Linked DNA regions of Homo sapiens. The protein of the gene in region 1 interacts with the protein of each later gene in a pairwise test. Each region holds a gene or a part of one and is shown in the gene's direction. Other genes may lie near its edges.

Region 1 (3,500 bases):
ATATAAACATTAGCTGGATGTAGTGGTGCACACCTGTAATCCCAGCTACTCAGGAGGCTGAGGCAGGAGAATCGCTAGAACTCGGGAGGAGGGGGTTGCAGTGAGCCGAGATTGCACTACTGCACTCTAGCCTGGGTGACAGAGCGAGACTGTCTCAAAAAACAAAACAAAACAAAAAAACACACATTGCAACAAAACAATTTCTCTCTAAACCTGTAAGTGATTTTGTCCTCCCTTACAGAGAAGGTGATAATCTTTGCTGTAAGCACTGTCCTCGTATCGTACCCCTTGTGCCCCTGAATGAATTTAGAAAATGTAAAGTACAGGAGATCAGTATATGATGACTTACTGATTCATAGTAGTGTTTTAATAGGATGTTCCTTATGTGAATAAGATATAATTTATTTGCAAAGATTTGGTCTACATGTAAACTTCCAAGGATATAACTGAAAGTTTTGGAGGACATGGTATTCTCAGTAGGCATTATTGCTTTTATTAGTGAGATGGACTCCAGCTTGATATTTTCTGCCTTTTTGTGTTTGGCTGGTTGTGCGCAGCACGAGGGCCGGGAGGAGGATCAGCGGTTGATCAACTTGGTAGGGGAGAGCCTGCGACTGCTGGGCAACACCTTTGTTGCACTGTCTGACCTGCGCTGCAATCTGGCCTGCACGCCCCCACGACACCTGCATGTGGTCCGGCCTATGTCTCACTACACCACCCCCATGGTGCTCCAGCAGGCAGCCATTCCCATACAGGTGGGTTAGGGGGAGTCTGGCCTGAGGGAGAGTGAGGGGTGTTGATAGAGTGACCCAGGGTAGCTACTGGGCCTGAAGGAGGTTAGGAAAGGAGGAGACTGGAAACATGGTGATGAAGGCTGGAGATACTTTAGAGGTTTATCATGAGGTTTTCTTGGTTAGGCTCTTGTATTTTTCTCACATCTGCCTGTCCATCTGTCTTTTTCAGATCAATGTGGGAACCACTGTGACCATGACAGGAAATGGGACTCGGCCCCCCCCAACTCCCAATGCAGAGGCACCTCCCCCTGGTCCTGGGCAGGCCTCATCCGTGGCTCCGTCTTCTACCAATGTCGAGTCCTCAGCTGAGGGGGCTCCCCCGCCAGGTCCAGCTCCCCCGCCAGCCACCAGCCACCCGAGGGTCATCCGGATTTCCCACCAGAGTGTGGAACCCGTGGTCATGATGCACATGAACATTCAAGGTGAGAATAGTTGCTGGCGAGAAGAGCAGGATCAGCATGATGAGGGAGGTTCATGCTGAGGTGTGAGGGAACAGGGTGGGGAAGGGAGAGGCACATGCTGGTGGTGGTAGCCTGGGGACCAGAGCAGAAGCTTAAGTAGACAGATGTGGGGGGTGTGGGGGTTGGTTTGTCTTTGGAGGTGTGTTTGTGTGGTGAAGGGAGTACCTCTCCCTGTTTAGATGGAGGGAAAGGCAGGCTTTCTGATTGGGGGATTATGGGCCTGAAGTATGCCTGATCTCAGAAGGATATAGTTAGGCCTTGGCCCTACCTACCTCAGGGCCACTGTCTCTGTCTCCCTGCCCAGATTCTGGCACACAGCCTGGTGGTGTTCCGAGTGCTCCCACTGGCCCCCTGGGACCCCCTGGTCATGGCCAAACCCTGGGTAAGAGTGAGGGCATCAGGGCAGGCTGAGCTCTGGGTAGAGAAAGGGAAGGGCTGAGTGGGTGGGTTGAAGGGGTCCAGGTTCAAGGTTACATCAGACCCGCCCCCCAGGCTCCACCCTCATCCAGCTGCCCTCCCTGCCCCCTGAGTTCATGCACGCCGTCGCCCACCAGATCACTCATCAGGCCATGGTGGCAGCTGTTGCCTCCGCGGCCGCAGGTAATGACCTGGAAGGGGAGGCTTGGGAGGTAGGGCACAGTCCATGGTGGCAGCTGGCTGGCAAGGGCCTGGCCCTCAGCCCTCTTCGGTCTGTCTCTTCTGCCACCCACAGGACAGCAGGTGCCAGGCTTCCCAACAGCTCCAACCCGGGTGGTGATTGCCCGGCCCACTCCTCCACAGGCTCGGCCTTCCCATCCTGGAGGGCCCCCAGTCTCTGGGACACTGGTGAGCAAGGGTCGGGGAGTTCTAGTGCGTAACAGTCTAGGGAGAGACTCCTGTGGTGGTGCATGGAAGGGCAGGTCTGAAATTCTCCCTTGCTCTCTATCCAGCAGGGCGCCGGTCTGGGTACCAATGCCTCGTTGGCCCAGATGGTGAGCGGCCTTGTGGGGCAGCTTCTTATGCAGCCAGTCCTTGTGGGTGAGTTTTCATTCTTCCCCACTCAGAGTTTAAACTCCTTTCCTAGTCTGCTCACTGGCACTTTCCAGTTCTTTCCATATTTTCTTGGTTCCTGCTTTCCTGGAATGGGGCTGCTGTAGTGTCTTGTGTCTTCAGGTTTCAGCTTTTTTTTTTTTTTTTTTTTTTTTTGAGATGGAGTCTCACTCTGTTGCTAGGCTGGAGTGCAGTGTACAATCTTGGCTCACTGCAACCTCTGCCTCCCGGGTTCAAGTGATTCTCCTGCCTCAGCCTCCTGAGTAGCTGGGACTACAGGTGCACGCCACCACGCCCAGCTAATTTTTTATGTTTTTAGTAGAGAAGGGGGTTTCACCATGTTGGCCAGGATGGTCTCGAACTCTTGACCTTGTGATCCACCCACCTTGGCCTCCCAAAGTGCTGGGATTACAGGCTTGAGCCATCGTGCCCGGCCAGCTTTTTTCTTTTTTTTTTAAGTTACAGAGTCTTGCTCTGTCACCCAGACTGGAGTGCAATGGTGCAATCCAGTGAGTTAAAGCTCACTGTAACCTTGAACTCCTGGGCTCAAACAGTTCTCCCACCTCAGCCTCCTGAGTAGCTAGCAGTACTAGCTCCTGGCTAGTAATTGTCTTTTTTTTTTTCTGGTAGAGATGGGGTCTTGCTATGTGGCCTAGACTCCTGGGCTCAAGCAGTTCTCATGCCTTGGCCTCCCAAAGTTGCTAGGATTACAGCCAAGAGCCACCATGCTCAGCCCAGCTTTCTTTTTTTGGTTTCTTACAGCTCAGGGGACCCCAGGTATGGCTCCACCGCCAGCCCCTGCCACTGCTTCTGCCAGTGCTGGCACCACCAACACAGCTACCACAGCTGGCCCCGCTCCTGGGGGGCCTGCCCAGCCTCCACCCACCCCTCAACCCTCCATGGCTGATCTTCAGTTCTCTCAGCTTCTGGGGAACCTGCTAGGGCCTGCAGGGCCAGGGGCTGGAGGGTCTGGTGTGGCTTCTCCCACCATCACTGTGGCGATGCCTGGTGTCCCTGCCTTTCTCCAAGGCATGACTGACTTCTTGCAGGTGAGTGGCTGGCTTGCCATTCACCTCATCTTCCTGTCCCCCGGCCCAGCCAGGCAGTGGTACCTTCTTGCCATTATATAACCACTGGGTAAGAGCCCCTAGTGACATGTTAGGGGAAGGGGCCCTGGGAATTCATTGACTCTGAACCTTTCATTTTAAAGATGAAG
Region 2 (3,500 bases), on another chromosome or scaffold:
CCTGCGGCCTTCCGCAGTGTTTGTGTCCCTGGGTACTTGAGATTAGGGAGTGGTGATGACTCTTAACGAGCATGCTGCCTTCAAGCATCTGTTTAACAAAGCACATCTTGCACCACCCTTAATCCATTCAACCCCTGAGTGGACACAGCATATGTTTCAGAGAGCACAGGGTTGGGGGTAAGGTCACAGATCAACAGGATCCCAAGGCAGAAGAATTTTTCTTAGTACAGAACAAAATGAAAAGTCTCCCACGTCTACTTGTTTCTACACAGACACAGCAACCATCCGATTTCTCAATCTTTTCCCCACCTTTCCCCCCTTTCTATTCCACAAAGCCGCCATTGTCATCCTGGCCCGTTCTCAATGAGCTGTTGAGTACACCTCCCAGACGGGGTGGTGGCCGGGCAGAGGGGCTCCTCACTTCCCAGTAGGGGCGGCCGGGCAGAGGTGCCCCTCACCTCCCGGACGGGGCGGCTGGCTGGGCGGGGGGCTGGCCCCCCCACCTCCCTCCCGGACAGGGCGGCTGGCTGGGCAGAGGGGCTCCTCACTTTCCAGTAGGGGCGGCCGGGCAGAGGCGCCCCTCACCTCCCGGACGGGGCGGCTGGCCGGGCGGGGGGCTGACTCCCCCACCTCCCTCCCGGACGGGGCGGCTGGCTGGGTGGGGGGCTGACCCCCCCACCTCCCTCTTGGACGGGGCGGCTGGCCGGGCAGAGGGGCTCCTCACTTACCAGTAGGGGCGGCCGGGCAGAGGCGCCCCTCACCTCCCAGACGGGGCGGCTGGCCGGGTGGGGGGCTGACTCCCCCACCTCCCTCCCGGACGGGGCGGCTGGCCGGGCAGAGGGGCTCCTCACTTACCAGTAGGGGCGGCCGGGCAGAGGCGCCCCTCACCTCCCGGATGGGGCGGCTGGCCGGGCAGGGGGCTGACCCCCCCACCTCCCTCCCGGACGGGGCGGCTGGCTGGGCAGAGGGGCTCCTCACTTCCCAGTAGGGGCGGCCGGGCAGAGGCGCCCCTCACCTCCCGGACGGGGAGGCTGGCCGGGCGGGGGCTGACCCCCCCACCTCCCTCCCGGACGGGGCGGCTGGTCGGGCGGGGGCTGATCCCCCCCACCTCCCTCCCGGACGGGGCGGCTGGCCGGGCGGGGGGCTGATCCCCCCACCTCCCTTCCCGGACGGGGCGGCTGGCCGGGCGGTGGGCTGACCCCCCGACCTCCCTCCCGGACGGGGCGGCTGGCCGGGCGGGGGGCTGACCTCCCCACCTCCCTCCCGGACGGGGCGGCTGGCCGGGCGGGGGGCTGACCCCCCCACCTCCTTCCCGGACAGGGCGGCTGGCCGGGCAGAGGGGCTCCTCACTTCCCAGTAGGGGCGGCCGGGCAGAGGCGCCCCTCACCTCCCGGACGGGGCGGCTGGCCGGGCGGGGGGCTGACCCCCCCACCTCCTTCCCGGACGGGGCGGCTGGCCGGGCAGAGGTGCTCCTCACATCCCAGTAGGGGTGGCCGGGCAGAGGCGCCCCTCACCTCCAGGAGAGGGCGGCTGGCTGGGCGGGGGGCTGACCCCCCCACCTCCCTTCCGGACAGGGCGGCTGGCCGGGCGGGGGGCTGACCCCCACCTCCCTCCTGGATGGGGTGGCTGCCGGGCGGAGACGCTCCTCACTTCCCAGACGGTGTAGCTGCCGGGCGGAGGGGCTCCTCACTTCTCAGACGGGGTGGTTGCCAGGCAGAGGGTCTCCTCACTTCTCAGACGGGGCGGCCGGGCAGAGATGCTCCTCACATCCCAGACGGGGCAGCAGGGCAGAGGCACTCCCCACATCTCAGACGATGGGCGGCCGGGCAGAGACGCTCCTCACTTCCTAGATGGGATGGCGGCCGGGCAGAGACGCTCCTCACTTTCCAGACTGGGCAGCCAGGCAGAGAGGCTCCTCACTTCCCAGACGGGGTGGCAGCCGGGCAGAGGCTGCAATCTCGGCACTTTGGGGGGCCAAGGCAGGCAGCTGGGAGGTGGAGGTTGTATCGAGCCGAGATCACGCCACTGCACTCCAGCCTGGGCACCATTGAGCACTGAGTGAACGTGACTCCGTCTGCCATCCCGGCACCTCGGGAGGCTGAGGCTGGCGGATCACTCGCGGTTAGGAGCTGGAGACCAGCCCGGCCAACACAGCGAAACCCCGTCTCCACCAAAAAAATACGAAAACCAGTCAGGCGTGGCGGCGCGCGCCTGCAATCACAGGCACTCGGCAGGCTGAGGCAGGAGAATCAGGCAGGGAGGTTGCAGTGAGCCGAGATGGCAGCAGTACAGTCCAGCTTCGGCTCGGCATCAGAGGGAGACCGTGGAAAGAGAGGGAGAGGGAGACCGTGGGGAGAGGGAGAGGGAAAGGGAGAGGGAGAGCTTGTCTAAATTTTCAATGGTATCAGTACAATGTTCAGAATTTCCTTTACTATCTTTTTAATGTCAGTAGGATTACAGTGGTGTCCTTATTTTTATTTTTAATATCAATAAATTGTGTTCTCCCTTTCTTGATTACCCTTGCCAGGAGTCTATCAATTTTTTTATTCTTTTAAAAGAACTAACTTAGGACTCTGTTGGTTTTCTCTTTTGTACCTTTGTTTTTTAGGTCATTAATTTTTTAATTAGTTCTTTCCTTCTACTTTATTTGGGCTTAATTCTCCCACCACACACACACACACAGATACACATTTTGAGATGGAAACCTAGGTCATTAATTTTTCAATCTTCTTTTATACATTCATAGCTATTCATTTCTTTTAAGTGAAATTATTCTATTCAATTCACAACTTTAATTGCGTTTCATAAGTTTTGATGTGTTATATTTTCATTATCAATGAACTAAAAATACTTTTTAGGCCAGGCATGGTGGCTCACACCTATAGACCCAACACTGGGAGGTGGAGGCAGGAGGATCACTTGAGCCCAGGAGTTCGAGACCAGCCTAGGCAACATAGTGAGTCCCCATCTCTACAAAAAATTTTTTAAAAAAGCCGAGCATGGTAGCACACACCTGTGGTCACAGCTACTCAGGAGGCTGAGGCAAGAGGATCACTTAAGCCTTGGAGGGTCAGTACTGCAGTGAGCCGTGATCACACCACTGCACTCCAGCCTAGATGACACAGCAAGATACTGTCTCAAAAGAAAATAAATAAAAATTTTAAAATACTGTTTAATTTTGCGTTTTAAAATACTGTTTAAAATACTGTTTAATTGTGATTTCTTTTTTGACCTGTAGGTATTTAGAAGACTAGTGCTTAATTTCAAACATTTTGAGATTTGGTCATTTACCATTTTTTATTTCTAGCTTAATTCCACCGTGGCCAGAAAACATAGTCTACATGATTTCAGTCTTGAAAGTTGCTGAGACTTGCTCTATGGCAAAGCATAAGACCAATTTAACCATTCTGTGTGGACTTGAAAAGATGTCTATGGGAAGTCATAGTGTGCAATAAATAATCCGTATGTGTAAATTAGCTCATTTGTTAATTGTTTTGTTG
Region 3 (3,116 bases), on another chromosome or scaffold:
AATGAGGGAGGAATGATCACTAGAGGAGAAGAGAAAGAATTGTCTCAGAGAGTGAAAAAGGGAATTTATTGGTAATTGTAAGATTTTACTGCGAGTACTGAATTCCTGTTTGAGATGTGTGGACATACACTCAGGGTGATACCAGTTAGCATGGTGTGTGCTGCCATAAGCAGACAGTTGAACTTGAATTAGGTTGTGGTTTTGCCAGGTGATTGTGGCAGAGGAGAAAAAGCAGTGGCAGTGCCACTTATATCCTTCTGTGAAATCTTCCTTTTTTTGTGTGGTGTAGAGCTAGCAAATGCCATTTACCTATTGCCTGGTACATTTTATGGTGCACAGAATTATTGTAGATTCCTTTTGGAGCTGGAAAGAACCTAAGAGAACATCTAATTCTGTGGTTTTAAACTGGGGCAGGGTTGGGCAATGTCATGTATCAGAGACGTGTGGAGAGCTTTTGACCTGGGAAACTATATCTTATTCTTCAGCTAGACTTGGAAAGAGAAGAGTCCCAAGAGGTGAAGTGAGTGTTGTCAACTGAGGAAAAGAGAATAAGTTGAATTCCTAGGGCCTAGGTCAGAGTATAAGGAGGTGGTTTTGATTTCAGAAAGAGCCCTGAGCCAAATAGTAGAAAAGCTTGTGTTCTTTGATTCAACCCATTTTCTTTTTTTTTTTTTAATCATCCTCAAAAGTTTTTTACTTTTTTTTCTTTCCAACTTTTATTTTTAGGTTCATGGGGTACATATACGAGTTTGTTACATGGGTAAATTGCATGTTGTGGGGGTTTAGTGTACAGATAATTTTGTCACCTAGGTAATCAGCATAATACCTGATAGGCAGTTTTTCAATCCTCACCCTCCCCCAACTCTCAAATAGACCCGGTGTCTTGTTTCCCTCTTTGTGTTCATGTGTACTCAATGTTTATGTCCCAAATAAATATATGGAAACATGGTATTTGATTTTCTGCTCCTGCATGAATTCACTTAGGATAATGGCCTCCAGCTCCATCCACGTTGTTGCAAAGAACATGATCTCATTCTTTTTTATGGCTGTGTAGTATTCTATGGTGTATGTGTGTCACATTTTCTTTATCCAGTCTACCATTGATGGGCATGTGGATTGATTCTATGTCTTTGCTATTGTGAATAGTGCTGCAGTGAACATACCCATGGATGTGTCTTTATGTGATTTAACCCATTTTATAAATGAAAAACTGATGTCCAGACAGGCCAGACAATTTCTATACACCCAGGTGGAAACAAAGCCAGGATTAGAGTTCCATGTCCCAACTCCATTGTGCATGTGTTGCCTCTCATTTTTCTTGGATCCCTGTATATTCTCCTAATTTGATAACTAATTGTTTCATGTGAGTTTTTCATTTTCAAAATACTAAAATTTTTACTTTCTGCTGATTGTTGCTAGAGTTAATGATTATGATTTCAATATCCTATTTTCCTTTTTTTTTTTTTTTTCTCTAACCCCAACTTTAGGGAACAGAAGTCAAAGCAATAACATATTCAGCAATGCAGGTCTATAATGAAGAGAACCCGGAAGTTTTTGTGATCATTGACATTTAAGACACCAAAAAATAAAAGACTCCTACGAAGAACTGTTTTTGTTTTCCTCTTCCTTTTGAGAAGACACTATGAATTAAATTCTACAGCTTTTTTTTGATATATGGAAATTTGTAGAACAGAAATATTTTAGTTAAAGTGTGACTTTCAGAAAGGGAAAATCAGGGCACAGCCTTGGTCTGTGTTCCCCAAATATTCACACTTTAAAGAATTCTTCAACCCCCCAAGGGACAGTTATGGTCCTTTGATTCTCTGCTGTGGCAGTAGGTGTGCCTCATGCCCTTCCAGTGCAATGCAAGCCCTCCAGCCTCACCCCAGAGAGGATCACTGATGTCAGCAGCAGCCTGAGGCTGAATCCAGGTTGAAAGAAGAATAACTTGAAAAAATATATTTCCACACACAGAATTTTGTTTTTCTTCCAAGTTGGTTAAGACATATATTTTGTTTCTTTTTTTTTTTTTTTTTTGAGACGGAGTCTCGCTCTGTAGCCCAGGCTGAAGCGCAGTGGTGTGAGCTCGGCTTACTGCAAGCTCCACCTCCCGGGTTCACGCCATTCTCCTACCTCAGCCTCCCGAGTAGCTGGGACTATAGGCACCCGCCACCATGCCCGGCTAATTTTTGTATCTTTAGTAGAGACGGGGTTTCACTGTGTTAGCTAGGATGGTCTTGATCTCCTGACCTTGTGATCCGCCCACCTTGGCCTCCCAAGGTACTGCGATTACAGGCATGAGCTACCATGCCCGGCCACAAGACATAGATTTTCTATATGCACATCAAGGGAGGTGCTGGTTTAGGTTGCTATAGGACAGAGCTATCCTGTATTCCAGTTGGTTTTTGTAGAGAAACAATTAGACTTCTCTAGATAGAGCCCTGATTTTTCTCTCACGCTTTCAGTTTTTTAAAAGCACTAATGATATTTCCTGTTTTCTCATAAGAAAAAGTCAATACTATGCCTTACAAAGAGACCTTTCCTTCTAATATAGAATTTTATTTGAAAGTGAGTACATGTTTATAACTAGAGAATAAAAGGAGAATTTTTGAAAAATTTCTTTATTGTTGTTTTTGTTTAACTACTTAAGCTATTCGTCCTTTTTTTTGAGACAGGGTCTTGCTCTGTCCCCCAGGCTGGAATGCAGTGGTGCAATCATAGCTTACTGTGGCCTCGAACTCCTGGGCTCGAGCAGTCCTTCCAACTCAGCTTCCCAAATTGCTGGAACTACAGGAATGCACCACCATACCTGGCTAATTTTTAAATTTTTTTGTAGAGACAGGGTCTCACTATGTTGTCTTGAACTGGTCTTGAACTCCTGGGCTCAAGTGATCCACCTTGGCCCCCCAAAGTACTGGGATTACAGGTGTGAACCACTGCACCAGGCCTAGCTATTTGTCTTTAAGGAGACAGGAGGCCAGGAAAACAACCTTAAAATGATCTGAACTCTTAAAGTAGATGACTTTTTAAAAATGAAATTTAGTTTGATTTGCACCTTTTTTCTTGTTTCTATTGATTGAGGTATTCTCTTTTGGGATCAAGAGTTTGCAAAGTTG
Region 4 (3,500 bases), on another chromosome or scaffold:
TAATTTCACCTTCTGTATAGTAAAAGTAAGTGTGACATAACAGTCTCTAATGGTTGTGAAAAATATGCCTAAAAGGGCCAAGTGCAGTGGTTCATGCCTGTAATCCCAGCACTTTGGTAGGCCAAGACGGGCGGATCACTTGAGGCCAGGAGTTTGAGACCAGCCTGGCCAACATGGGGAAACCCCATCTCTACTAAAAATACAAAAATTAGCTGGGCATGGTGGCACATGCCTGTAATCCCAGCTACTCAGGGAGCTGAGGTGGGAGGATCACTGGAGCCCAGGAGGCAGGAGTTGCAGTGAGCCGAGATCGCCCCATTGCACTCCAGCCAAGGCGACAAAGTGAGACTCTCTGTCTCAAAAAAAAAAAAAAAAAGAAAGAAAGAAAAAGAAAAATGTACCTAAAAAGTAACTCAGAATTACTAAAGTTTGCTAAAGTGAATCTTTAGACAAAGAGAACACAAGGGCAATTAGAATTGGAGCCCTAGAATGAGAGATGTGGTGATCGACCTGAACCTTGCCACACAGGTTGGAGGTACACCCTTGAGGGGACATATAAACCTGTTGGAGGGAGCAGCTCAGAGGTGGAAAGCATGGACTGAGTATGGGAAGTAGCCACCAGTCTGGTGGGCTGTAGACATACTTCAAGTAATGAAAGGATAGGGCAGAGCCCTCCCCAACATCTGCATCTGCCTCCCCTCTCTACTTCCCTCAAAAACTTCCCAAAACAAGCAGTACAGTATATAGATAAAAAGAGAGTCATCTATCCAAATGCAGCTAGAAAACAAATTCCCCAGACTGCCCTGCCTCCCAACCACATTGCCACCTCTGAAAACATTCCACCATTTTTGCATCCCCCGTTTTCGTATGGAGAGTCACCGGGGTGAAGGGCATCCTATTCGAACAACTATTTTCAGTCCTTTTTCCCCGGTAGGCGTGCATGTTGTACAGGTCCATATCCTTCCAAAGGTCCCATTTGAGAAAACATCATCTTTTTCGCCCTAAGGGAACTAAATACAGATATGAATTTTGGGTATTTTGTACACAGTTAATATTGCCTTTAATTCAAACAAAGTTCATAGTGCCTTATCTCAGTAGCCTGTTGTATATTAGGTGCTTAGTAAGATTTATTTTTTTTTTGCTTTTCCTGCTCCTAATATTCAGTTATTGTTGGTTTTAGAAAGCTTTCTCACTTATTTTGTTTGTTTCTTTCTTTTTAAAGGAGCGGTTTAAAGAAGCTGAAGAAATATACCAAACTGGAATAAAGAACTGTCCAGACAGCTCAGATTTACACAACAACTATGGGGTTTTCTTAGTTGATACTGGTAAGTGAAATTAAAGAGAAACTGTACTGCTGAGATTAGCTAATACAATTTATCAAGCAAAATGGAAGGCAAATAATCCTCAGAAGTAAAATTCACTGGGCTTGGCAGGAAGCTCACACTATTGACAGTCATTATACCTCGGGGCTGTCATTTCTCTAGATCTTCAAGCTCGATTCAGTAAAATCTGGCCATTCTCATACTCATTTCTCTATGGAAAACTCCCCAGGGGACAGGAAGTAGCCTTATGATTTAATAAGTCCCAATCTTCTTTGAATATTATTTATATATATTTATAAATCCATGATGATGAAATGTTTCTCTACAATGATGCAAAACCTGCCTCTGAAAGCAGTTACTGGCAGATGGTAAATACTTTTCTATAACATATTTTTTAAAAGCCTCCAGAATTGTTCCATCATTCCTTCCTTGATGTACATTAGAAACTGCATTATTAAAATTGATACAATGCTCTTATATGACAGGTGCTATATAAAATACACTTACTTTATCTTACTTAATGCAAAACATTACTGGGCATGAATTCTCTTTTCTTTATGACTTATGTAGTGCCTCTGTACTGTTGGCATGCAATGTAAGTAATGAAATTATATTTAAATGTAAGGCCAAAGCACCACTTTGTTCTTGTTGATTACTAGACTAGCTGCCCTGCAGCAAAATTTAGTTTAATTAGTTTTTCAATATGAAATGCTTAAAGGGGTTTTATTTTCAAGGATATTTGGAGCTCTCTTGTTTTACAGAATATAAAATTTACATTCTGATACATCTAAGAAACTTACCTTATTTTTGCCTGTGTAAAATTGTTGTGTAGTGCCACCTGCTGGTTCATTGGCCACATAATAATAAACTGTCTTAAAAATATAAAAACTAGAAGAAACCTCTAGTTGGGCAGGTCTAACCCTCCTCCTTTTACTTCAACAACAGTCCCACCCCACCACACCCCTAAAAATGATAACTCTGTGACCACCCTATGACATTGAGCCTCTGCCTCCAGAGACAGAGGCTCCTAGGGACCTCCTAGTCAAACTTGTATTCAAACAGATACGCTTGAAAAGATTTCTGTGTAGATAATAGACATTCCATTCTATTTAGAATTTCACAGTGTTCTAAAGTGTAGTTACTGAATATAGTTTCACCAGGAAGCTACTTTGAAGAAACCTATCAGAGTAGAGGGCCTTCATTCTGCTTCTGGCCTTACTCTCACTTGCCTTGGGATCTTTATCAAGTCTGTTGAATATCTTTGCACTTTAGTGTCTATATCTGTAAAGTGGAAAATTTTTGTGTGTGGTTTTTTAAATATCTCTTAAATCCTGATAAACAGCTAAACAGTATCAAAAGGCAGCTAAATTGTATAAAAAAATACCTGCAAAAACCATACAAATGTAAGTATTTAAAAATATATAATGCATTGGACAAGTGCATGGTGGCATTATTATGTTGTAAGTCTTATTAATTAAGTGCCATTCAAATGAAAGTGCATGATTTTAAAAGAGATTTTCACTATAGAGCTGATATGTGTTATTTAAAGTAATGCTTCAATTGCTATGTTGAAGTATAGTTCATTGAGACAGACCCTTAGAAATTGCTTCTGGACAGTTTTATTTCTACAGTAGCCTGTTCTATTTTTTATATAATGAGAGCCAGTTATATCTTGGATAAATAACAATCACTAATAATCTGAAGGCATCCTATTAGCAAGAGCGATGACCAGAAAAATTTCGACTAAAATAATATATATAATTAAAACAATAGGTTTTAGTTTTTACTGCTTTTTTGTTAATTTTTTTGGAAGTATGAATGAACAGTGAAATTGTTCAAAGTTAGGCAATGGCCAGGATGAGAAGCTGAAATGCAAGCTAATTTGCATATTGAATAATTTTGGTATAACTCTGTAATAATGAGAAAGAATTATAAGTCAGAAGAGAAAGTGAAATGTTCATGTCTTTTATAAAAAGGCATGTTCTGCTCTTACCAACCTGTCACTGGTTACAGGCTTACCAGAAAAGGCAGTGGCCCATTACCAGCAGGCCATCAAACTTAGCCCCAGTCATCACGTGGCCATGGTGAACTTGGGAAGACTCTACAGGTCACTGGGAGAGAACAGCATGGCTGAAGAATGGTACAAGCGGTAAAGTTCCCTTTCTTTTCTTTATAAGT

Evidence for each region. The genes of interacting proteins can lie anywhere in the genome.
Region 2: the proteins of BAG6 (region 1) and GINS3 interact in binary tests that used the Homo sapiens proteins (3 or more experiments, as listed by UniProt).
Region 3: the proteins of BAG6 (region 1) and ZBTB8OS interact in binary tests that used the Homo sapiens proteins (3 or more experiments, as listed by UniProt).
Region 4: the proteins of BAG6 (region 1) and TMTC1 interact in binary tests that used the Homo sapiens proteins (3 or more experiments, as listed by UniProt).

The regions. Positions count from the first base shown.
Region 1 is NC_000006.12:31,642,662-31,646,161, reverse strand, and holds part of BAG6 (large proline-rich protein BAG6), read left to right. Parts: intron 1-557; coding exon 558-755; intron 756-963; coding exon 964-1,216; intron 1,217-1,532; coding exon of another isoform or gene 1,533-1,559; coding exon 1,560-1,637; intron 1,638-1,747; coding exon 1,748-1,855; intron 1,856-1,967; coding exon 1,968-2,080; intron 2,081-2,184; coding exon 2,185-2,272; intron 2,273-3,046; coding exon 3,047-3,333; intron 3,334-3,500. UniProt on the Homo sapiens protein: ATP-independent molecular chaperone preventing the aggregation of misfolded and hydrophobic patches-containing proteins.
Region 2 is NC_000016.10:58,395,471-58,398,970, forward strand, and holds part of GINS3 (DNA replication complex GINS protein PSF3), read left to right. Parts: intron 1-3,500. UniProt on the Homo sapiens protein: Required for correct functioning of the GINS complex, a complex that plays an essential role in the initiation of DNA replication, and progression of DNA replication forks.
Region 3 is NC_000001.11:32,620,320-32,623,435, reverse strand, and holds the end of ZBTB8OS (protein archease), read left to right. Parts: intron 1-1,487; coding exon 1,488-1,574; 3' UTR 1,575-2,616; downstream 2,617-3,116. UniProt on the Homo sapiens protein: Component of the tRNA-splicing ligase complex required to facilitate the enzymatic turnover of catalytic subunit RTCB. Together with DDX1, acts by facilitating the guanylylation of RTCB, a key intermediate step in tRNA ligation.
Region 4 is NC_000012.12:29,518,443-29,521,942, reverse strand, and holds part of TMTC1 (protein O-mannosyl-transferase TMTC1), read left to right. Parts: intron 1-879; exon of another isoform or gene 880-1,010; intron 1,011-1,222; coding exon 1,223-1,325; intron 1,326-2,122; exon of another isoform or gene 2,123-2,212; intron 2,213-3,335; coding exon 3,336-3,471; intron 3,472-3,500. UniProt on the Homo sapiens protein: Transfers mannosyl residues to the hydroxyl group of serine or threonine residues.